Regions from separate parts of the Homo sapiens genome. Here region 1 is linked to region 2. The links come from fine-mapping of genetic effects on gene expression. A gene starts in region 2. The other region holds a variant in brackets. All regions are shown on one strand. Distances are from middle to middle. Region 1 overlaps ATG4C (autophagy related 4C cysteine peptidase). Region 2 holds the start of ATG4C (autophagy related 4C cysteine peptidase).

Region 1 (12,341 bases), 50 kb before region 2:
TAAAATTAGGTCATTTACAAATATAATATTTTAAATAAAGATACCTTGGTGATTTCTTCAGAAGCTCGTTTGAAGTCCTGAACATTTCGACAGTAAAATCCTATTGTACAGCTGGGATCCATTTTTCGAAAAGACATCTTTTTGGGAGAAGGGCAGTGGAATGTCTGTAATTTTTAAAGTTCTTTAGGATTAATTTATCTTTGATAGACAAGTATATATAAAACTATTATTTAAAATTTTCTATCTAGCTTTTTCCCATCACTATAAACATGATTTTCAAATGGTGTTTTAGTTCATCCTACGCAGATGGTCCTCTCCACTCTGCAAAACTGTAAAATATAAGAGCCAACATTTTTATATATTTAATTCACCAAATTTCAACCTTTTGTGATATTAGTGCCATTCTGCAAAAGAAAGGAAGTGTGTCAAAAGTGGTATGCATTTCTAACACTTGAAAACATGAAAAAGACATGAAAAAAGTATGAGGCTTAGAATCAAGTTAGCCATTTCTATTAAAATGCAGTTAAGTCTGTTTTGTTGGAGATTTTGGGTTAATGTTTATAAACCTTTTAACAAGGATATCGAGACTTTTTAAACAAATACACAGACTCAGGTAAATGTTCTATATTGACATAAAAAGAGGTCAACTTGAGGGTTTTAGCAATTCACACAATTAGTACATAACTGCGTATTCTTCAACTTTCTCTTTGAGTGTGCTTTAATTCTTGTTTCTTCTCAGGGAACAGGCTGGAACAGGTGAAACCATTCCATTATGGTCCCTGCCCTCTTTCTCATCAGTCCTTTTGTCTCTTTAGTTCACTTTTCTCCAATAGACACAGTGCCACAGATATAAATGGGCTGGGGAGGCTGCCCTAGTTTCTCTACTGTCTTGCTAATGGATTTGGCTGTTAGTAGAGTTTGGCATCTTTAGGGAATACAAAAGTAGAAAAAGGGCAGAATATAAAAGTAATCACTGCAATCTTTTTGTTCCTCACAATCACACCTTAGTACTATGTTTAAAAATTTTTTTAATGCTTAAATGCTTAGCCTGTCCTTAAAAATCACTGAAGTGACCAAGTCTTTTTCTGTATGTAGAAAAAATAAGTTTGTGTTAAAAAGAACATAAGACTGTATATTCATATTTATATAAATAAACTAAGGATATACAAAAATTAACAAGTCTGTGGTAAAGGGAGAGAACTGGGCAGATGGGAGATAAGTGTGGGAAATTTTTGAATTAAAGAACAAGCTCAATTAAGAAATAATCTAGGAGCTGGGTGCTGTGGCTCCCATGTACAATCCCAGCTATTCAGGAGCCTGAGGCAGGAGGACTGCTTGAGCCCAGAAGTTTTGAAGCTGCAGTAAGATATGATCGTGCCACTACACTTCAGCCTGGGCAAGAGGGCAAGACTCCAACTCCATTAATGGGAGGGGAGGGGAGGGGAGCTGGATTTGAGCTCATAAAATTATAGTTTCCCTACATTCAATGCCTAAAACTAAGGGATTTTTAACTTCATGCTATCTATTAAAGTGTGGAAAAAATAAGTTGTCATATTTGTTATGTTCATGGTGAAATCAATTAAAATCACTCTTTCTCTCCCTGTACATCCTAGTGACCCAATTTGTATCCCGTATCATCACCAAAAGATATGCAAAATATATACATTCAAGCTGCTTTTTTTTCCAATGAAAAGTTCAACTGCATATTAGATTCAAATCCAACAATATGTCACTCAATATAGGGCAAAATATGAGTTTTCAAAACTATGACTTCTGCAAAATGCTTAGCTAACTTACTTTATATACTGAGATTCAACCTAGCTAAACTGGAACCTCCATGGCACTAGTCAATACAAGTATAATCTTAGTTGGACTTTTTCTAACATTGATCTACCTGTTACATTAGCAAAGAAATATTTAAAACAGAACTAGAAAAGCACAGAAAAGCTAAACAAACTGGTTAGTTAACAATTTACAGGAATATGAGTATATTAGGGTATATGGCACAGTTCTAAGTCATATTTATAAGAAATTATTCTACATACATGGTATCTACAAATAACCATTTGCCCAGCTCATTCGAAAGACAATCACAAGGAATGTTTCTTAACTTTTTTACCAGTTGGGGATAAGAAGGAGGGCCAAAAGCTTGTACATGGTCTAATAATATATTTTTGAACTCATCTACAAAGGGTATTCTATATTATACTAAAGCACTGGTAAAAGTTTTCATGTAAGAACTTGAGTCAGGCTCATGCCTGTGCCCAGAAATTCAGAAGGCTGAGGTGGGAGGATTGCTTGAGGGCTGAGGTTTGAAACCAGCTTGTGCATCATGGCAAGACCCCACCTCTAAAAAAAAATTTTAAATAGCCAGGTGTGGTGGCATTCACCTATAGTCCCAGCTACTTAGGAGGCTTAGGTGGGAGAATTGCGTAAGCCCAGGAGTTTGAGGTGCCAGTGAGCTATGGTGGTGCCACTGCACTCCAGCCTGGGTGACAGAACAAAACTCCATCTCTAGAAAATAAAAATTTTTTAATTTTAAAAGGCTTTTCATGTAAGAACCAATAATACTAAACCAGAATAGTCTTATTACTATCTCACTGTACTGACTACAACCATCATAGATAATAACAAACACTAAATTGTTATTCATGGTTGTTTTAATATCTACAAAGAACTTTTAAAATATTCACAAAAACACAGATATAAATCTCTGATCACTTAAACTGATATTGGGTATTGCGGCATGAGCACTAGGACTCATACAACAGAGAGGCATTTTATATCATTTAAACTTTTTTTTTTTTTTTTGAGATGAAGTTTCACTCTTGTCGCCCAGGCTGGAGTGCAGTGGTGCGATCTCTGCTCACTGCAACCTCTGCCTCCCAGGTTCAAGCAATTCCTCTGCCTCAGCCTCTCGAGTAGCTGGGATTACAGGTGCGCACCACCACGCCCAGCTAATTTTTTTGTATTTTTAGTAGAGACGGGGTTTCACCATGTTGGCCAGGCTGGTCTCAAACTCCTGACCTCAGGTGATCCACCTGCCTTGGCCTCCCAAAGTGGAGGGATTACAGGCGGGAGCCATCATGCCTGGCCATTCATATCATTTTGTTCATCCAAGAAGATTCAAAGGCCAACCAACATGAATTTACAATTCACAATCGTTGTCTATTGCAGAACAAGTTAAACTTTCAAATATTTTCCTAATTCAGGGCTATGTTCACTTCGTGATAATTTTTGAGCTATGCACTTAAGATTTTTTTTAATTTTTAAAATTCTAATGATTGGTAAGAGGAGTAGCATCTACTTGACAAACGCACTTTAAGGAGTATTCACTAGATACACTTCTGTAACAGTGTTTCTGGAAATACTGGCCAGAGAGAATCAATTCCCATTTATTTCATTTTTTGATACATTGTTTACCAATTGCCCTAATAGTTATTAGGCACCTACAAAATGACAGGCACTATTCTAGGCTTATTGTTTAGAATAGTGAAGTCTAATTACCTAAACATACCAAAACCATACTGAAACATATGCTTATAGGTACAGCTATGCTATTTTGGTGATTCAGATGAAGCTTCCTAAGACAGTTAATTAGAAAATACCCTTAGTAAAAAGTACCTACTGATAATTAACCGGGTATGGTGGCACCCACCTGTGATCCCAACTACTTGAGTGGCTAAGGTGGAGAGATCGCTAAAGCCCAGGAGGTCAAGGCTACAGTGGGCTGAGATTACACACTACGCTCCAACTGGAGTGGTAACAGAGCAAGACCCTATCCTCCACCCAAAAGACAACATAAAAAAAACCTACTACTAATTGCAGTTCACATGTGTAATTCATAAAGGGTATTATCTTTCACTGAAGAATTCACTCATCCAATCTAGATGCCCACATCACGTAATTCTAATAGTTTTACTGCCAATATTTCTGAATTTCCTAAGGTAGATTAAAACAGTTACCACTGTATGAACCTCCTAAAATTTGACATTTGGAATTGGGGACCCAGCAATCAGAACAAACTGACATGTCTATTAATAAAGCTTTTCTTACATACCCTCACTGCCAAAGCCCATTTGAGGTCTCTTCTCACTCCCTTCTAATTTCAAGTTGTTCTTTGATGACTTTTGTTTAAGGTTGTTCATGCTGCTCCTCTGAACCTCATTTTCTGTTTGAAAATTACAGTGTGAGTTTCTACATTATAATGTGCCCTCACACTGAACCATGTGCTCCATTCCTCAGTCCTAACCAAAGATATCCCTGGCATATCTTCACTACTAGACTTAGGATCCAAATATAACTGCTGATGTTCACTTCACAATGTGTTAAAAACTCACTGAAGATAGCTAAAAATGAGGAAGAGTCTCTTAAAAGTTAGTATAGAAATTCAATAGGATATACTAATTTATTTCAGAAGAAAATGTCACAAGAATTAAACATTAATAGAAATGTATATAATCAAAACACTTGGAATCACAGAGAAGAAAAGAGTTCAACAGAGGACTCAAGGGCTTAGGAAAGTCCCTTGCACCTAGAAAGAGCTCATTAAAAAAGAAAGAAATGAGTTACTCTGATTTGGTTTCAAAATGTTAAGAGTTCAATTCTAGAAATGTAGAAATTCAACACTGTAAGAACAACAAAAAATGCAATCTGTTTAAATCTCTTCTTTAATCTCAAATATTCTCATATCATCCCACTTCCTTAAAATTTCACAATCTATTAGATTTAGGGCACTCAAAATATCAGAGGACTACCACCAATTATTTATGTGGAATCAGTGGATGATTTAAGGTTTCAATTTCTCCATCTATTAACCAAAAAAATACTGACCCAAAAAGTTCCCTATAAAAATGATTTTAATAATTGAAGTATAAGGGTGGTTTTAGAATATGCATATAATTTTTTACATTAATCAACTACATAATTTCACTAGCTATAAATATACAAGCAGTATAGCAAAGCAAGGATGGTTAGTAATACAGGGTAGTTAAAACACCTTCAATTGGTGTATTATAAACTTAAAAGATGATAAAAAGCAAAAAGTGAAATTTTATTCCTCTACAACTTGATATAATTTTTATATTATACTTTCATAGGAAAACAAGTGATGCTATAACTAAAATAAATCCCTTCACTGCAGAAAAATAAAAATTTTTAACAGGAATTTTCCACACAGATTAAGATATTCTACCAGGATCTTAAAAATATAACATCTATAAACCCATTCTATAAGTGTCCCACTATATAAGAAATGTTTCTGTGCATTTAAGAAGTCAATTTTAACAAATTTTACCTTACACAGTAAAATCTTAAAATCAATTATTCCTTTCCATTTTCACTATCACCAGCCTACTTCAAACCTTTATTATTAATAACTCCCTCTTGGAGTGTTGCAACAGTCTCCCAATAATGAGTTGAAGCCTTTCTAATTTTGATTGTATACACATAGCCAGGATATTCATTCACTTGGTATCTTTGCAGTCTCTCAAAATATCAGATGGATAATTTCTCTCTACTGGCCAAAATAATCAGACCAATAATCTTTTAATTTGCTTATTTAGGTAATACTAAAATACTAAGAACAATTTTCCATCTAAATCTCAAGTACCTACTGTTTATAAGGAGTCAATTTGGCACTGATCTACTGGAAATGTAACTTGGACACAAGAATCAGTGCTACAAGACCACAAGGCAGAAAGAGAATTACGATGTAGTTCACATGGCACAATTATTCTGTAGTGCCTTCCCCAGTACCAATCAGTCAACTAGCAAATATTTATTAAGGTGCAAGATACTATGAAAGAACAAAATAGACCTGACCTCTGGCCTCCAGATGCTTATACTTTAATTGAGGTAATAGTTTACAAAGGATGCCAAAATGTTTTATAATATATCTTTCTGAACCAGATTTTAACCTTGTGGTTTATCTATTTTCATATTCTACCTCTTAAATACTATTAGGTGTTAATATTAGCTAGCAAGCAATTACTAAAACAAAGTATTCAGCTATATTTGCAACTCATCAAGTCCTTGAAAATTAGTGATCCATGACACTCAAGTGATTTAAGTTATTTTATTCTGTAAAATTACTTTAGTCTGTAAAAGCACCAACTGGGAAAACAATCAAAACCATGTAATAATTACATGTTTCATTTATGTATTCTCAAATTTTTCTGAATTAAAATACTGGATCACAAAATGACCTGTATAAAGGAAAAGAAGAGGTTAAGAAATAAAAGCTCAAAAAAAATTAGAAACCCAACTAAGCTCTTGAAAACTTCCTAACTAAAGGCTAAGATTTAATTACTGTACTCAAAGCAAAATAATTTAGCAGATAACCGCATTAAGTCGCTTTGTTACTCTAACCCGTCTATCCCTTTCTATTTTTCTTTTTTTTTTTTTTTAAACAGGCCTTACATTTTAAATTCTTCAGTACTGTTTAGCTGTCTCTATACAAAATTACTTGGAGACTTGATCATTTATTTTAGTATGGCCAGGGTTTCTAACAAGTTAGAGACAAAGATAAATGAAGAAGAAAGTATATCATAAATTAAAATTCAGCAACAAAGTACTTAACCTTTGACCACTGTGTTAATTATGGTTCTATAGATCAGTAAAATATTGATTATTAACCAGTAGTTATAATACCGTAAAAGCATAGCTACCTAGCACATCTCTAAATAATTAGTTTACTTCATATGGTAAGAAAACAGTATCAGCTTTTTATCCACAGTACCTCAAGAGGGAAATCCTTTATGCTGACATCTACAAAAGATTGGCAGTAATGAGGATCCATGTAAATCAAACTGTCATCTACAAGGACAAAACAGAAGACAAGTAATTCAAAAAACACCTTATTATTACACTGCTTACAATCCAATTTCTATGTAGAACAGCTGAAAAAAATCTGGGAGTAACAGCTTGCCAGACTGATATTCATTGACTGAAACATAGGTTTGCACAGGATAGATTAACTTTTGCATAATCAAATATGCTTGTATAAGCAGAATTTTTATAAAGTGATGAGACTGTCATTTAATTTTTGGTGATAAAATTGCTTTCACAAACACACAATTATATTCTACAGTTTGCATATGAAAAATGTATTGCACTTCTTTATCTTGACAGGAAGAACATATTGCTTGTCATTTTATCATCTACTTGCACCACTAAAACTGGTAAAAAGTAAATATGTAAACAGCAACTGCCAGAATGTGGCAGTGATGTTTTCTGAAGTTTAGCGCAACCAATAAATTATGCCTTGTTTATGCAGTAACAGAAATTAAACATATATTTTACAGAATCTAATTATGTTGTGGACCAAATGACAAATGAGTGGCTATAGTAGGACTGATGAATGTATAAGGTACTCGTTTTGCTCTGTTAATCATCCTGTTTCCAGATGATCTCATATTAACTTTCTGACTTTTAAAAGAAAACAATGAAGAAATATATTTTACTAAATCACTAACCTTGAAATCCAGCAAAGTAATATGACTGTTTAGGTTTGCCACCAATAATACCCACA[CAA/A]TATTCCAGGCTTAAAATACCCTGCCAAAAAAAATTAATACAGATTTAGTCAAGAGGCAAGTGGTAATTATTCAAAGCAAACAAATTTCTATTACTAATATTAGTAGCTCCCAAATTTACCACTACCAGTTATCATTTATATTACATTTGCACCCAGGTTCTGAAATCCACTTGTCTTCCAAACTGCCTTCCTTTTCTTTAAATCACTCAACATTAACATGACAAATCAAATATTTTGATCAGCGTGTTGCTCAACAACATTAAACAACTACTACATAGAGAGATAATCAATTTTACCACCGTAAGGCAATAAAATTCCTGCCAAAGCCAATACACTTAGCCTTCCAGTTAGCTGGTGCAGCTTCACTGTGATCAACGTAAAATTTTCGTCAGGCTTTTTGAAATGCTAAAGATAGTTCTTAGTCCTTACTGCTGTTTTCATTGAACCTTGAGTCTTAGAATCACAAATTGAAAGCCATTTTCTAATCAATGGCATTCACTCAAATTTTTTATGCTACTTCATTTGAAATAAAGAGTAATGAAAATAACTTAATCCAATGAAAATAATAATTATTGCATTTAAAGCCAATTTATTTTACTAATCATAAAATATCAGGAATACCACAATAAATTATTTAATACACCCCTCAGCAATCTATTCTAAGCAGAACTCTATTTAAGTTAGGCCAAATCAACTCTATATCTTTTTAAAAACATGTCCAATTGAGTAAGTTTAAAATGTCTAGTGGAATCAATTAATGTCTTAACAACAGTTCCTGCAATAATTTTGATATATCCTATAAAACACTAATAATGATAAAGTATAGGTTATAAAATCCCAAAACTATTAAACAATAATTAAGCTTTCCTTCTCTTAAATGAGAGGATGTTTTGAAATCTCTAAGATATAAAAATAAATATATGGACAAACGTTCTTTTTCCTTTAACAAGTAACCAAACCATACAGAACACACACACATACAGGAAATACAGAAAAAAGTGAAACTTTTCCCAAATTCCAACACCCAGAGCTCATCATTATTAATATTTGGGGGAACACCTTCTTAACATCTGTCTACATTACATACATACACACACAGATTTACAAATACAATTTTATATATGTGAAATCTCACAACACATGCCATTGTAACCTTTTGTTGCTCATTATGTCATGAATATCTTTTCCTATCAATAAATAGAGATCTATATTAATAATATGTAGTAGCTGAAAAATATTCTATTTTATGACAACAAAATGTGCTTTAAAACCTCCACTATAAATATTTAAGTCATTCCAAGTTCTCACTGTTATAAGTAACCCTCCACTATAGTTTGAACATTTTTATTCCCTCCAAAATTCATGTGTGGGAACTTAATCCCCAATGTAGTGTTGAAAGCTGGAGCCTTTGGGGAGGTGTTTAGGTCATGAGGGCAGAGCTTGCATGAATATCAGGTTAAAATCTTAGAGCTAACTAAAAATAAAGATAAAATTGTATCAAAAATCTCAATGTTGCTATAAAAAGGACTTGCAGGAATGGTTTCTCTCTCCTGCTCCTCTGCCACGTGAGGACAGAGTTCGCCCTCTTTCGGCCCTTCTGTCTTCCACCATGTGAGAGCGCAGCAAGGAGACCTTCATCAGATGCCAGTGCCTTGATCTTAGATTTCCCATCCTCCAGAACTGTGAGAGAATAAATTTCTGTTCTCTATAAATTACTCAGTCTCCAGTATTCTGTTACAGCAGCAAAAAATGGACTCGGACACCCTCTAAAGAACAACCTTGTATATTCTTAGTATTGTAAAAATATCATGAAGTTTTTTCTGAAATGATAAACTGAATGAGAGCTGCAACTGAAAAAATTAAACAGAGAAAGCATATCAGGTTAAAATCTTAGAGCTAACTAAAAATAAAGACAAAATTGTATCAAAAATCTCACTAAACAGTAATAAAGTTACTTATCAATTAAGAATTCTACTGTTTTCCCCCTAAATAAAAATCCTTAATACAATTAGAGAGTGCCTTACTTCGAGGCAGTCTGATCAGTTGAAATGCAATGTTTATATCATAGAGACCTGTGAGGCAGTGAAAGTTCTATGTCTCTTACAACTGAGAAAAGAAAGAAAAAAATATATAGCAAGGATTGTCACTGACTCTCCTCAGAAAATGAATGGTTCTAAGTAACGGAAGAAAGACTTTGGTTCTTGACATCTGTATTTCCCTTGCAACGCATTAGAGCAAGTTTAGTAATAAACGCTTAGAAGCAGATTAGGAGCTAGAATGCCTTTACATGTAAGAGGCTGTATCTTTGGATTGAAACACTTTTCAGTTCCTAAAAGAGCTTCTTTACAGTTATTTTTCTAGTGGTGAAAATTTATTGAGCTGTATCCATGAAGCAATAAATAAGACTGAAGTAATCAGTCAAAAAAAAAGTCCTAATTTGTCTCACTGAAGAAAAAGAACATATTGGATTTTCCTCATTCCAGGTCCTTAAAAATACATACATACATACATAAATAAACCTCCTGTGGTAAGGACGAATAAAGCACACAACAAATTTCCTTCTTCTCATACAATGTAGCAGGATGCTATGTTGGCACTATCTCTGAAATACCTTGTTTAATAAATTTGAAAAATAGAACTGAACAGTACATTTTAGACTCACCAACGCACATTGGTTTGGCAGGAAAAAATACAACGGCTGACCATACATGAAAAAAAGGAAAAAATTATTTTTCTTTTAGGGCTAATGAACACACTACCTTTTCACTTCTAAGTGAATACCTCTTTACATGCTCTCATTGGGGTTTGACTCAACCATCCCCTCTGGCCAAACATAATACCTATCATATAACCTACTCCACTTAACCATTTCAGCCATTTTTACCTAACTGGAAAATCAAAATGTTTCAATAGTCACTGCTCTCCCACTGTAGTGGACTACGGTGTAAATCAAGTTAGTAAAAGCTCGAGAAAATGTTACCTTTCAAAAAGTTCATGTTTTAGAGAAAACCATGAAAAACAAACTTACAGTCAAGAAAAGTCTAGTCTCTGCTACCAGTTTGCTATCTGAATTTGGATATATCACTTGACTTCTCTATGTCTTTTCTGTTTCATAAAGACAATCCAGTTCCTAGCTACTGTGAGGGCAAAATGAGATAAATTTACATTGAAAAGTATTATACAAATTAGGGTTAACAAATATGTATTGAGTAACTCCTATATGTTAGATACTGAGGCTTCACTTTAACAGCTTAACCATAGTTCATTTCACTACAAAAAGAAAAGTCCTAATTTGTCTTGCTGAAGAAAAAGAACATACTGGATTTTCCTCATTCCAGGTCCTTAAAAAAATATAAATAAATAAACCTCCTGTGGTAAGGACCAATAAAACACACATCAAATTTCCTTCTCCTCATACAATGTAGCAGGATGCTACATTTCACTACAAACCATGGTCAAGCTATTAACCATGAATCACTCAAGAGCATTAGGCAGTGAGACCATCTAATGAATACTATCAATACCACCAAATAGCAAAGTCCTCAGCCAGATGAAACATGCCTGAAGCCATTTGCAACCCATTCCACCAGGAATGAAGCTTTGGCTAAAGGAATCAGTTCCAAGACTGCATCAGTTTCTAATCTTCTCATGGTAGTAGAGAAGGCAAAAAAGAATCCAGTTCAGATTTGATTAGAACCCACCTAGAGATGACAACATGTCAGAAGTCTCAAAACCCTCAACAGATTCTCTAGATGAAGTGGTTCACAGCTTCTCATACTGCACCAATAACCCTACTAAAGATACATGTCAGACATCAAAACCTTACCTTTATTTGGAAGATTAATATGTCATTGATATATTACAGTATTGTTACTCTTAGTAACAAATGTGCTTCCAAAATTTTAGTAACTATTAAGAAAAGCCAGTATACCAGCTAAAAAACTTCCATGTATATCATATGTTAAAAACAACTGCTCTAGATTTCTAGAATTAGCACAATCTACCCTGAGAATAGATGTTCCAACTAAATATATAGAGACTATAACATGGGATGCCTCATGGAGGGAACAAATAGTTATTAATCATAAAAGATAGATTCAGACTTTATTTCAACATTACTATATCCCATAACACTCCATTTAAAGAAGAATTCCAACTATTGCTGCAAAAAGAGACTACTAAAAAATGAAGAATTTTATTGAAACTATGAAAATAAACTAAAAACTTCTGCCTTAATCAGAAACTATTTCCAAGGTATTTTATCATATGTGAATGTCTTGGTGCCCAAAACAAGATACCATAACTACACAGGTTCTTTTGAAGCAAGAAACCAAACAATGTGCTCCAAGAAAGAACCGATTTTTAACTGGTTAAGATGAAAAAAACAAAGTTGGAATTCCTCCAAATACTATCTTCATATCTTCATTATTTCTAGCTATAGAAATAATCTCATCTCTTATTGACATCATGGTGTCACAGGAAACATATTATGAGATAACATAGCAGTAATAGAGAGTTTTTTCAATAATTAATGTGATGTAGTTTAATGCTAGTTTTATGAATAAAGATATATACTTAAAATTACAAATAAGAATAATGAAACTGTAACTATATTACAGGTTATGATTATTGCTGCATCTGTGTCTCCCTGATTAGCTACAAAGATTAAAAGGCTTTTCATTTTGTTATAGAACACTGTGCTCTTCAACTCACATTGGTCTTATAATACCAAAATTTAAAATCTCTAATGTCAAACTTTACAACGTACAACGTACAACTACAAAATCATCACTACTCATTTAACAGA
Region 2 (12,341 bases):
TAATGTCTAGGAGCATAATGGTTCCATTAGCTGAAACAGGGAACCCAAGTAGAGAAGACTAAGGTGAAGATAGGAAATTCAGTTTAAGATACAGTGATTTTGAGGTATGTAATAAGTAAATATGAATGTTATCATGGTGCCTTTAAGAGATGACTGGGTAACTGGGGTTCTGCCCTCATAAATAAATTAATTCACTCATGGATTAATGGATTAACAGGTTATCAGAGGAGTGGAACTGGTGGCTTTACAAGAAGAGAAAGTGAGACTGGAGCTAGTGTGTTTAGCTCCTTCACCATGTGATGCCCTGCACCACCTCAGGACTCTGCAGAATCCCCACCAGCAAGAAGGCCCTCACCAAATGTAGCTCCTCAACCTTGGACTTTTCAGCTTTTGTTAACTATAAGGAATAAATTCCTTTTTTACATAAATTACCCAGTTTCAGTTATTCTGTTATAAGCAATGAAAGACAGACTACGACAATGGATAAGACCATTTCCAAGACCCATTATATTAGTTACTCTTGCCAAGAAAAAGGTGCATCCATATTACTGAAGCTAGTACTACATGTAATTTAAACACAAAATATCACATTTATTCATCAAGTATTTGAGTGGTTACTCCTACAAGGCACTGAGGGAGATACAATGAGCCATGAAACCCAGTATCTGCCCTCATTAATCTTACATTCTAATAAGCAAAATGGTTATAACTAACCATAAGGCTGAATGTGGTTATATCTCACAATAGAGATATAAAGTATCATAACTATTAAGAGACATATTTTCCCCCTTTCCAATGAGAATATTCACACATGAATAATATCACAGGGTAAAATACAGTCACAACAAGTATTCTTCAAATACAAAGAAGGACTTAACAAAAAACATAAATCTTTCCATTCTGGTTATAAATACAGGAAAACATTAGACCTATTACTTGGGAATTAGTTAAAGTACCCCCAACAATTATGTCTATTGTTAAAGATTAATGCTTGAATTGTATCATCAGTTAAAAGAAGAGCATTGTTTAAAATGTTCACAAACACAATTGTTTTGGTTTACAAATGGAATCACTTGATGTCACTTTTCTTGCACTCCTAATTTTAAATATCATTATAACTGAAAAAATAGAGCTACAAGTTTAGAGCTTACAAGTCTTAAAACTTAATATTCTCCAGCTGATATAACTGTTCTAGAGTTCTCTATAACTATATATTACAAAGTTTTAAATTATGTCACTTTAGTAGTTTTACAGATAACTGATTTTACAAAGAGTATATTAAAAAGTAATTTAGTAGGAACCTAACTATATTTTACATTCATAACATAATCACACAGAAAAAATAATTCAAATAACTTTGAACACCTATTTTGACTATATATACCTTTAGTGGGATATATTCTAAGAACATAAAATGGCAAAGAAATCTTTACTTGGTAAATCTGTTGCTGGAAGCGGTATCAGTCAGTCTAGTAATTCCAAAACTATTTTATGTGTGTTGTAGGATAGGTTAGATGAGTAAAAATAGTGATATAATTGAGAATCAGAATTCTCTCTTTGGGAAAACAGAGATATAAACAGGAATTGGAAGGAAGTGATGAGAACTCTGCAGTGTTGAATTTGAATTGAAGGTATCCTATGAACTCATGATTTCTTAAAAAATGTATATGTTGGCCGGGTACAGTGGCTCACGCCTGTAATCCCAGCACTTTGGGAGGCCGAGGCGGGTGGATTACCGGAGGTCCGGAGTTCGAGACCAGCCTGACAAACATGGAGAAACTCTGTCTCTACTAAAAATACAAAACTAGCTGGGTGTGGTGGCACATATCTGTGATCCCAGCTACTCGGGAGGCTGAGGCAGGAGAATCGCTTGAACCCAGGAGGCAGAGGTTGCGGTGAGCCAAGATCCGCCATTGCACTCCAGCCTGGGCAACAAGAGCAAGACACTGTCTCAAAAAAAAAAAAAGTGTATATGTGTGTCCATTTAAAGGGTCTAGAACCAATGACACCCCAGTAGCAAAGAGCATATTCAATACCCAGATCTTCATTTCTTTTATTTCTTTTTTTTTGAGACGGAGTCTCGCTCTGTCGCCCAGGCTGGAGTGCAGTGGCGCGAACTCGGATCACTCCAAGCTCCGCCTCCCGGGTTTACGCCATTCTCCTGCCTCAGCCTCCCTAGTAACTGGGACTACAGGCGCCCGCCACCACGCCCGGCTCATTTGTTTTTTTATTTTTTAGTAGAGATGGGGTTTCACCGTGTTAGCCAGGATGGTCCCGATCTCCTGACCTCATGATCCACCCGCCTCGGCCTCCCAAAGTGCTGGGATTACAGGCATGAGCCACCACGCCCGGCCCAGATCTTGGTTTCTAAGAATCATTTTCCACTAAAATAAACCAGGACTCTGTGGTAAAATGGCTGATTCCATGTATTGAGCAGGAAATTTACAAGGTGAGGCTGGAACATCTTATTGTGCAAATAGGAGTAAGAAAGTGCTCAAACACCAATGTGGACATATCCAAAGTTCATGGGAACCAGCTTGAAGGATCTACTACTGACCAGATTTGAGATAATTTCATCACCAAAAGGAATGATGGTAGCAAATTATAACGCACTGCATAGATTTTGAAAAAAAGGATACTTGGGTACATAGTGATACTAAAATAAAAAAGAGAAAGCTCTTATTTAGAGAAGAGAGCCAGCAAATACATGTAGGAATGACAGAAGTGGGAAATCACTATTTGGCAACCACCAATGCTTTTATCAATGGCTACTAAAATCACTGGATAGGAAAACAAAACCTGCAAAACAGAATATCCACATGACCTCAATTTATCACCCCTACAGATTACTAAATACAAAAGGGAAAACATACTTTCGGAATATAAAAATCTGGCTAAACTAAGTGATCAAACTTAATCACCAATAATGGAATAAACGATCATGTTAATCCTAATATGATTAAATGGAAAGTTCAAAACATCACCCATGTAATAGTAAAAAAAAGAAAAAAGAAAAAAAAAGAAAAACCCACAACTCTTCAATCTGAAACTCATTGTGAGGAAAAAATCAGATAAATCAATTTTGTGAGGCATTCTACCTGAAGACAAAAAAAGAAAGAAATGATAAAGACTGTTCTAGATAAAATAGACATATAAGTACTAAATACAATTAATGTCTTTAATTGGATTCGGTATTTTTGTAATGGTATAATGACATTACTGGGATATTTGGAAAAATCTAATTGTTGAATATGGACTGCATATTAGACAATATTATCATATCAAGGTTAAATTATTTGGATATGCTAATGGCATTATAGTTATATAAGAGAATGTGCTAGTTCTTAGGAGATGCATGATGAATTATTTGGGGGTAAAGTGTCACGTTGCCACCTTACTTTCAAATAGTTCAGCAAGAAAAAAAGGTGTGTGTGTGTGTGTGTGTGTGTGTGTGTATTTATAGAGAGAGAAACAGCACTTGTCTAACAGCAAGGAATGAGAGCAAAAGAGGCACTATGTTAACAACTAGTGAATCTAGGTAAAAGGATGTACAGGTATTTGTCATACTACCATTTCAATGTTTTTACAGGTTTGAAAGTAAAAAGAAAAAAATAAGGGAAAAAGTAGAAGTTAGGTTGATTTTAGAGCAGCTGATCAGACTTCATAAAGCCTAACTACTCTTCACCCTATTCAATAAGAGCTAAAAGCAAGTTCAAACTTCGAAAAGGTTTGGCTAAAAATAAAGGTAATAATCCTAACAAACAATAAGTAATCACAAACTAATCACCATAAGTTTTCTATCACAGCTGTAAACTACACATAATCTCAGAACTCTGTGAAAGATGTTATGTGCTGGTGTATCTGGGACAATAGTGAATAAGCAAAACTATTTTATATATTTTCTCCAAATCTAAATACCAAATAAATTTTTTTTCTCAAATTGAGTTTTATTAGTTACAAGGTATCCTAAAATTAAAATGGTGTCACAGGAGTCAAGATGATCTTGAACCCAGTATCACTATTATAATAATGATAATAAACACTTAAAATCTGTACCAAGTATTTTATTAACCTATGTATATATATCATTTCATTTAATTCTCACAACAATTCTATAAGGCTGGCACTATTATTATCCTCATCTTATAAATTTAAAAAAAAAAAGGCTTGGAAAAGCTGTATAACTTCTTCAAGGTCATACTGCTAGTATACAGCAAATAGAGACCATGAATCCAGGCAGTCTGACACCAAAGTCTCTTTGCTCTATACACTCTACCACTTTACTAAGAAATGTAAAATTTAAACAATAAACTATAAATCACTACTGTTTGGGTTCAATATCTATCAAAAATTACATGAATGAAGCATTTCAGAGAAAAATCACAAGTATGTATTTTTCCCTAATGCATGTATATTTATGTATGTACCAAATGAATGAAGTTAGAATTTAACCAGATGCCAGTTTACTACCAAATCTCAAGTGAAAATAAAGATGGCATGTAACTGCATTATTCAGTTACCTATTCATATACATGGTTTAATATATTACAGATAGATTCAAAACAGAGACCAACATATTTCCAGATGCTTTCATGTAGAACCCCACCCCTGCTCAATCAAGAAAAAATGATACCAAAAAAACCTATTTTAGGCATAGTATTACTCAAATATACAAAACTACAACAATGACACAAAAGGGTAAAAATAACTAAGAAATTAACCTTAAACACTGCTACCACAACAAAAAATACTAATAAACAAAGCATGTTTCCCAAACCTGGTCCTCTTTCGATGTTCTCTACCTCGGTGAAGGGTGCAACAATCCTTCCAGTTATATAAGCCAAAAACCTAAGATTAGCCCATGATATCTTCCTCTCCCTCACCTTCCATATCTAATCCATCGCCTAGTTCCACCTCCTGAACACCTCTGGAATCCATCTTACCACCACCACCTTGTCCAAAATACCATCTCTCAATTGGGCCACTCCAACAATCTTCTAACTGGCCTCTCCCCATCCCCACTCTTATCCCCTCTGTAATCAGTTCTTCCTCTGTGTAACATCAAGTCCTTTTTTAATAGCATTTACCACAGTTGTAACTTTAAATTTCTTTGACTATTTGATTTATGTCTGCCTCCTCTGTTAGTAAATTCTATGAGGGTAAACACCGTATTTACTCACTACTATACCACTGTGGCCTAGAAGAGTGTCTAGTTAATAAATAAATGCTAAATGATTGAATGCATGTCAAATATTACAATTTTACTTATATATAGTCCAAAAAATAAAAATAAAGTGCTTTATAAGGCTCACCAATTATTCTATATCACAGATTTTCACTTGTTTTTTTTTTTTTTGAGACAGGGTCCTAATTTCTACCTACCAATCCCTAACCACTATTTAAATTCCACATTAGATCTCATCTTCATGAAACATTCCCTAGTTATCTCTCTTCTCACCTTTAACATTCTAAAACACTCCCGTAAAATCTAATACATATTGACTATATTTTCTGCTTCTTGAAGGGAAAGTTTACATCTCATACATTCTGCTAGAGTATAAGCTCCCTAAGAGCAGGGACTTTTCTTGTTCACTCTATATCCCCAGCACCTTGAAGAGTGTCTGGTATGAATAGCTGCTCAGTAAGCATATGTTGATTTAACGCTCTTTATATATTTCAGGATAGAGCACAGATCCTTGCAGCTGTTGTACAGTGGGAAGAGTCGAAAAGAACTGAATTAATTTCCTTAAATTCTTCAAGCTTCAGTTTTTTCATCTGTTAAATGTAAATAATACTCAATAGCTTAGTTGGAATAACTGCGCTAATGCTTTAAAAGTATCTATGCAGAGCTGAGGACAAGAGGATACTCTTACAAACAAATGTTTTGGTGATTTTGTGACAATAGTTAAATAGTAAGTAGTCACTAAATTCCTACTAAATGAATAAAATCTCAGGAAAAATATTAAAAGATTGAGTAATGGCTACCGTATCATTTTTTTCAATAAAAAATTATATGAGTAAATTTATTCTGAAATATATTTCGCCCCAAATCTTAAGCATGGCTGAAACCATTTCAGCATTTTGTGCATTAATTAGGAATAATCCCAATTTAACATTGTACCAGTATTAATATTTATATTTTACTGACATGTATAGATCATACTTGATAGCTTAAAAAAGAATGATAATCTTAGTATAAGAACCTCTTTAGTGCAATAATTGGAATAGAAAACGAGCTGCAAACTCATTTGAGTTACGTGGTTCCCCAGAAAGCCAGAAAATTTCTGCCTTTTTATAAAACATTAGTGAACAGAATACGATGCTGTTCACCAGAACCATCAAAACATCTAGAAATACTTCATAACCAATCACCATAAATACATTTTTCCAAATACTTGAATCCTATTTTAAAGAAAAAGAGCATTAATTAAATGGCTTTTAATGACTTTTTGCTAAATTATACAATTCTTTAGATGGGCCACTTTTTGACATGTGGTTCTAAAAATTTTATAGCGAATGAACTGGTAATTCAATATAGCCTCAGATTATTGGACTAAATAGAAACTCTTCCTGTTCAAAGAAGAAGCTTTATCAATTTGAAACTCAGAAAATACATAGACTTTACCTTTCAAAGCCTTTCCACTCCCTCTGGGTATTCTCAATGGCTCATAATCTAATTACAAGTCACAAGCAAGCAAGAAGATCATTCCCTTGTCTCTTTCTGCCATCAACTGACACAAAATCATTGCCAAAAACCCACCGGGGACATATGGTCCGAGCAGGAAAACATAAGAAAACTCCTAAGTAATTCGGATATAAAAAGATGTAAGACGAGGTATTCTTCTGTAACTATAGGGTAGCAGTGAGCCCCATGTGGGTAAATAACCAATACAAAACGAAAAGGTAAGCCAAAGAAATCACAAGAAATATAAACTCAATAAGCAGTGATGCTGAGTTGACCGCTGAAGGTTCTCATATATGAATATAGTCATCATATGTAAGAATTTATTCTACACCTCCAACCTCAAAAGCCCTTAGATGTGGGTAGGGTTGGGAGAGTTCACGGTGAGCGGGAACCAAATGAAGTGAATGAACGTTAATATTTAGATGGAAAGGCATTAATATATGCAAGGCAGTGTGTTATGGCTTGAAGCAGTAACAAACACCAAAAAGGGAGAAAGAGGCTAGGAATGAGAACAGAGAGACAGTGGGGATCCAGTTATTATTATTATTTCCCTTTTTTTATTTTTTAAACGAGGAAAAACAGGGCCGACAGAGCACTGGCATGAGGAGGGGTCAAATGGATGCGATAGATCAGGGGAAAGAGTCTTGCCTGCAACATCTAAGAAAACCACAAGGAAAGGAGGAACAGCTGCCCACAGTTAGGCTTACGGTTTATCTCTGCAACCCAGGACAAAGCGAGGAAGAGTTAGAAGACAAATGACACTAGAAAGGAGAGACAAGGAAGGCGCCAAAACCCTCAGAGAACCCAGATGGTTGGCCACAGGGTCTTCACTGAAGGCGGACCCCCGCAAGAAACCCAGTCATTCGGGGACCAGAGACGCTAAGTCCCAAACTTCTTGACTCCTTTAGCCTCAAGCCGATCCCTCACCGAAAGAGAAGGACTGGAGAACTGTAAAAATGTGCAGGAGCCACCAACCCGGCAAATGCTCCAGCTCTAGCAGCAGCCGCCACAAAACCAGCCCGCACACACGCAGACGTTCCGACCTCAGCGCCGCAGCTACAGGTACTTTGAGCACCCCGGCCACCGTAGTAAGAGGAACCGCCTCCGCGTCAAATCCAACAGATCAGCCACTTCCGGGATACGAAAGCCTTGCGATTGGCAGTAGCGATAGCAGCGGCGTAAAGGCCTCTGCTATGCTTACTTTATCCATCCCTTTTTCCCACCTGTTCGCCACCCCAAGCCGCTAATCCACCAATGCAGCAAGCGCAGAACCAAGAGAAAGTATCCGTCTGTGAGCATTGTCTCTCTGATAGACAAACCACATTACGGCTGCCATAAATTCCTCTCGAGCACTTGGACTTCAACTACCAGCAGGCCATGCAGCATCACGCCCTTGCCTCTGGCGTAGGAACTGCAAGATCCAGCATGCATTGCGGCCCTCCTTCCTCGCACTCAGGACCAAGATAGAGCCAACCCAAGCCTCACTTTGATTTAAAAAAAAAAAAAAAAAAAAAGCCAGGATGCCTTCTTTTCCTGTTGTGAAGGAACTCTAAGCCAAGCCATTATTAGGACTGTAGGTTATTTATAAAACATCAAGGGATATGTGCACTCATTTTCCATATTCAGATTATTTTCAAGCATTAAAACACAGGACAGTCGGGCGCGGTGGTTCGCGTCTGTAATCCCAGCACTTTGGGAGGCCGAGGCGGGTGGATCGCTTGAGGTTGGGAGTTCGAGACCAACCTGGCCAACATGGTGAAAGCCCGTCTCTGTTAAAAAATTAAAAAATTAGCCGGGCGTGGCGGCGGGCGCCTGTAATTCCAGCTACTCGGGAGCCTGAGGCAGGAGAATTGCTTGAACCCGGGAGGCAAAGGTTGCAGTGAGCAGAGATCGCGCCACTGCACTCCAGCCTGGGCGACAGAGCGAGGCTTTGTGGGGAAAAAAAAAAAAAAAAGAAGGAAAAGAAAAAGAAAGAAAGAAAAAAGGACGGTCCGAAGATGCTTTTTATAACGTGGAAATTTTTGGCCAGGCGCGGCGGCTGACGCCTGTAATCCCAGCATTTTGGGAGGCCGAGGCGGGCGGATCACTTGAGCCCAGGAGTTCCAGACCAGCCTGGCCAACATGGTGAAATCCCGTCTCTACTAAAAATATAAAAAATTAGCCGGGTGCGGTGGCGCGCGCCTGTAGTCCCAACTACTCAGGAGGCTGAGGCGGGAGAATCGCTTGAACTCGGGAGGCGGAGTTTTCAGTGAGCCAAGATTGTGCCTCTGCACTCCAGCCTGGGCGACAGAGCAAGACCCTGTCTCAAAAAAGTAAAAATAAATAAATAAATAAATAAATAAGTGGAAATTTTTATCTTCACTCCTAAATGATGTCAAGAGAAATACTGTTACTGTAAAATGTAATCCTATGCCGTTTTACAGTACCGCAGATTTTGTTGGAGCAAGGACTACCAGACATGCTTCTGAATTACATAGGAAATTATACTAAAAACTAAAAATAAAATATGAAGTCTATGCCACCGGACTATGAAACCACATGGGAATGAAAACCTTCAAGAATGAAGAGTTGAAAAGTTCAAAATTAAACTTGAAATTTTTTCAATTTTTTAGTGGATTTGGTGGTTTAAATTTTTTTTTATTCTCACAGAAACAGGTAGCTGGATCTATTTATTTTTTATTCATGTACTTGGACAGCTAAATAACAAAACAACAAACAAAGGATATGATAAGATCACAAATGGCACACTTATTAGAGTGAGCAAAGTAGTTTTCTTGCATGATTCCATAGCTTGTGGTTTCCTGTTTCGAAATCCCCAAACTCTGTTTTGATTTTTTTTAGGAGAGAGAGCATGCATCTAACAAGCTGTTTAGATGCCTTTTTGTAACTTTCATAAAGACCTGGATTACAAGAATGCATGTATTTTATTTTTGGTATTGTGCATTAACAGGCCATGAGAAACAATGCTTGGATTCTTAAAATAACTATATATACAAAAGTAAATTGTGTGTATACTACAGACTTGGGTTTTCTGTAGATTTGCCACAACAAATTTTAATTGGTTAGAAAAAAAGGAGTAGAGTACCTTTCCTTTTTACAACTTCACACAGAAATCACAGGAGGAAACTATATTCTGCAACACTGACATGGCATCAGCTGTCATACAAACTGCTTTCCAACTCTAGTGCGTTAAATTATGCAGCGCTAGCAAGTAAATATTTAAAATCTATGATCATGGAAAATAATCTGCTGTTTTCCATGCTCATGCACCAAAACAATATGAATGCAGTGAGAGAGGACATTTCCATTGGAATGATTCAAAGGTAATGTTGATAAACTATAATTAGGTTATCTGATATTCATAGGTGTTTGCCGTAAATAAACACAAAATTGCATCCACTTATTAGTGATGTTATTAAGGAAGCTTTAAAAATATGCTAAATATTTGATACACATATTTCTAAAGTCGTTTCCATGATCAATTGTGTAAATGAACATGGGAGTTTAAAGAGTACATAATTTATGTAATAGACTTTATGTTTTTTGAAGAGATTCTTACAGCTGCAGCACTCAGACAGAACATTCTCTCCTCTAAATGTGTCTTCACATTCCAATTCAGCCAATTGCCAACCATGCAAGAGTTAAAACTGAAGAAGCTGTTCGTTTTAGTTCAACAAAAATAGGATGAGTGCTACTAAGGGCAAGGCTCTCTGTCTGGGCACTATAAGCTGTTTATGAAACACTGATAGTTTTGGAAATTAGTTAAGATTTAAAGGGAAATTAAAAGCATACATGAGCTTTATCAGAATAGAAAACAAAGTAAATATGTGTAACACTGACTTTTAATAATCATCACACATTTGGTTAATTGAAACTTATAATAGCTAATATACCTTCTTAAAGGCAGGATCCGCATCTTAAACATCTGTGCCCCTCCCAGCTCTATGCACAGTACTTTGTGCAGAGTAACTGGCTCTCAATGAGTGTTTGTGGAAGTTCACAGTGATGACTAGGCTGGGTGCAGTAGCTCATGCCTGTAACCTCAGTACTTTGGGAGTCCAAGGCGGGTGGATCACTTGAGATCAGGAGTTCAAGACCAGCCTGGACAACATGGTGAAACTCCGTCTCTACTAAAAATACAAGAAAAATTAGCCAGGCGTGGTGGCGTGCGCCTGTAGTCCCAGCTACTCGGGAGACTGAGGCAGGGGAATTGCTTGAACCCGGGAGGCAGAGGTTGCAGTGATCCAAGATTACACCACTGCACTCCAGCCTGGGCGACAGAGCATGACTCTGTCTCAAAAAAAAAAAAAATTCACAGTGATGACCGAGGCCCCGAAACTGCCTTTTCATGAATACTGCGTAGTTTTAATGTAAGCTGTTTCTAACTCTTGTGCTTTATTTTTTTAATTAGTAATTCAGGTTGTATAATAAAATAACTATTAAAACCAGAATAATCAGAATGTCACATTCAATAATCATGAAAGCAACAATTTACATACACACACACACACACACACTGCTTAGTATATGTGTGTGCGTACTTGTGTATACGTGTGTGTGTGTGTGTACTTATATATAAAAAACACATTTATAATATATAGGTAACATTTATCTTAAGAGTCAAGCCCTTTCTAAAATGTCATCGTATTCCAGGCATATACTTTGAAAGTATACCAACCATTCTAATAGCATTGATTGTGAGGCAGCTCCAGATTTTTGTTAGGACACTTTTACTTCTTAACTTCTATCAAGTGTATTTCTTATCCATCTCCTTCCTGGACCAGGAAAAGATGAAGATTCTATTAAATAAATGTATACCATGAATGATTCATTGGGAATGTTATGTTAAGCGACATTGAACTCAGCCTGGATGGAATGAATACCTTGTAGACTTCTAAAGGCTAAAAAATTATTTTAAAGAACCCGGGAGGCGGAGCTTGCAGTGAGCCGAGATCGCGCCACTGCACTCCAGCCTGGGTGACAGAGTGAGACTCCATCTCAAACAAAAAAAATTAGAAAAAAGAAAACTTGGTGAAAACCTTTCCTCTTTTCCAAGTAATCTTATTTCTATCCCCTCTCTTATATCTTCAACCTCTTTCTCTCTCTCTCAACTATGCTCCCTTTACTTCAACAAACAAATGTGCACAGAATCACCATAATTGTGAAAGCACCTTCAGTGGACTCAGCTTTCCTGCTAAATGCAGTCACTCCCAATGCCCAGGCTAGAGTGCAGTGGTACGATCACAGCTCACTGCAGCCTCGACTTTCCAGGCTCAGGTGATTCTCCCACCTCAGCCTCCTGAGTAGCTGGGACTACAGGTACATGCCACCAAATCCGGCTAACTTTTTGAATTTTTTTGTAGAGATGGGGTTTCCCCACATTGGCCAGGCTGGTCTCAAACTGCTGGGCTCAAGAGATCCTCCCACCTCAGCCTCCCAAAGTGCTGGGATTACAGGCGTGAGCCACTGCACTCGGTCTGGTCTATTCTATCTTCTCTTTTTCCTTTCATAACCACACTTCATCAAGTGCTACAAAGTAAACCTTAGCCTTGACATGCAGCATGGGATCTCTTCACAGCAGCTAGTATTTACTGAACACCCACACCTATGCTGGAAATATAGACAGAATTCAGTAAGGAGCTTATGGTCCCTCAAT

Evidence for each region.
Region 1: its variant is fine-mapped to the expression of ATG4C in whole blood (TOPMed, PIP above 0.99).

Annotation. Positions count from the first base shown.
Region 1 is chr1:62,829,251-62,841,591 of GRCh38, reverse strand. It overlaps ATG4C (autophagy related 4C cysteine peptidase), which reads right to left. Exons shown (of 11, transcript NM_032852.4): 8 at 7,476-7,554; 9 at 6,740-6,816; 10 at 45-164. Among named protein-coding and RNA genes, the nearest start is that of ATG4C, 51 kb to the right of the region's middle. The variant CAA/A (reference allele first, on the strand shown) is at 7,532.
Region 2 is chr1:62,779,545-62,791,885 of GRCh38, reverse strand. It overlaps ATG4C (autophagy related 4C cysteine peptidase), which reads right to left and starts at 7,754. Exons shown (of 11, transcript NM_032852.4): 1 at 7,613-7,754. RefSeq lists a silencer at 7,274-7,568 and enhancers at 7,544-7,723, 7,844-7,903, 8,004-8,053.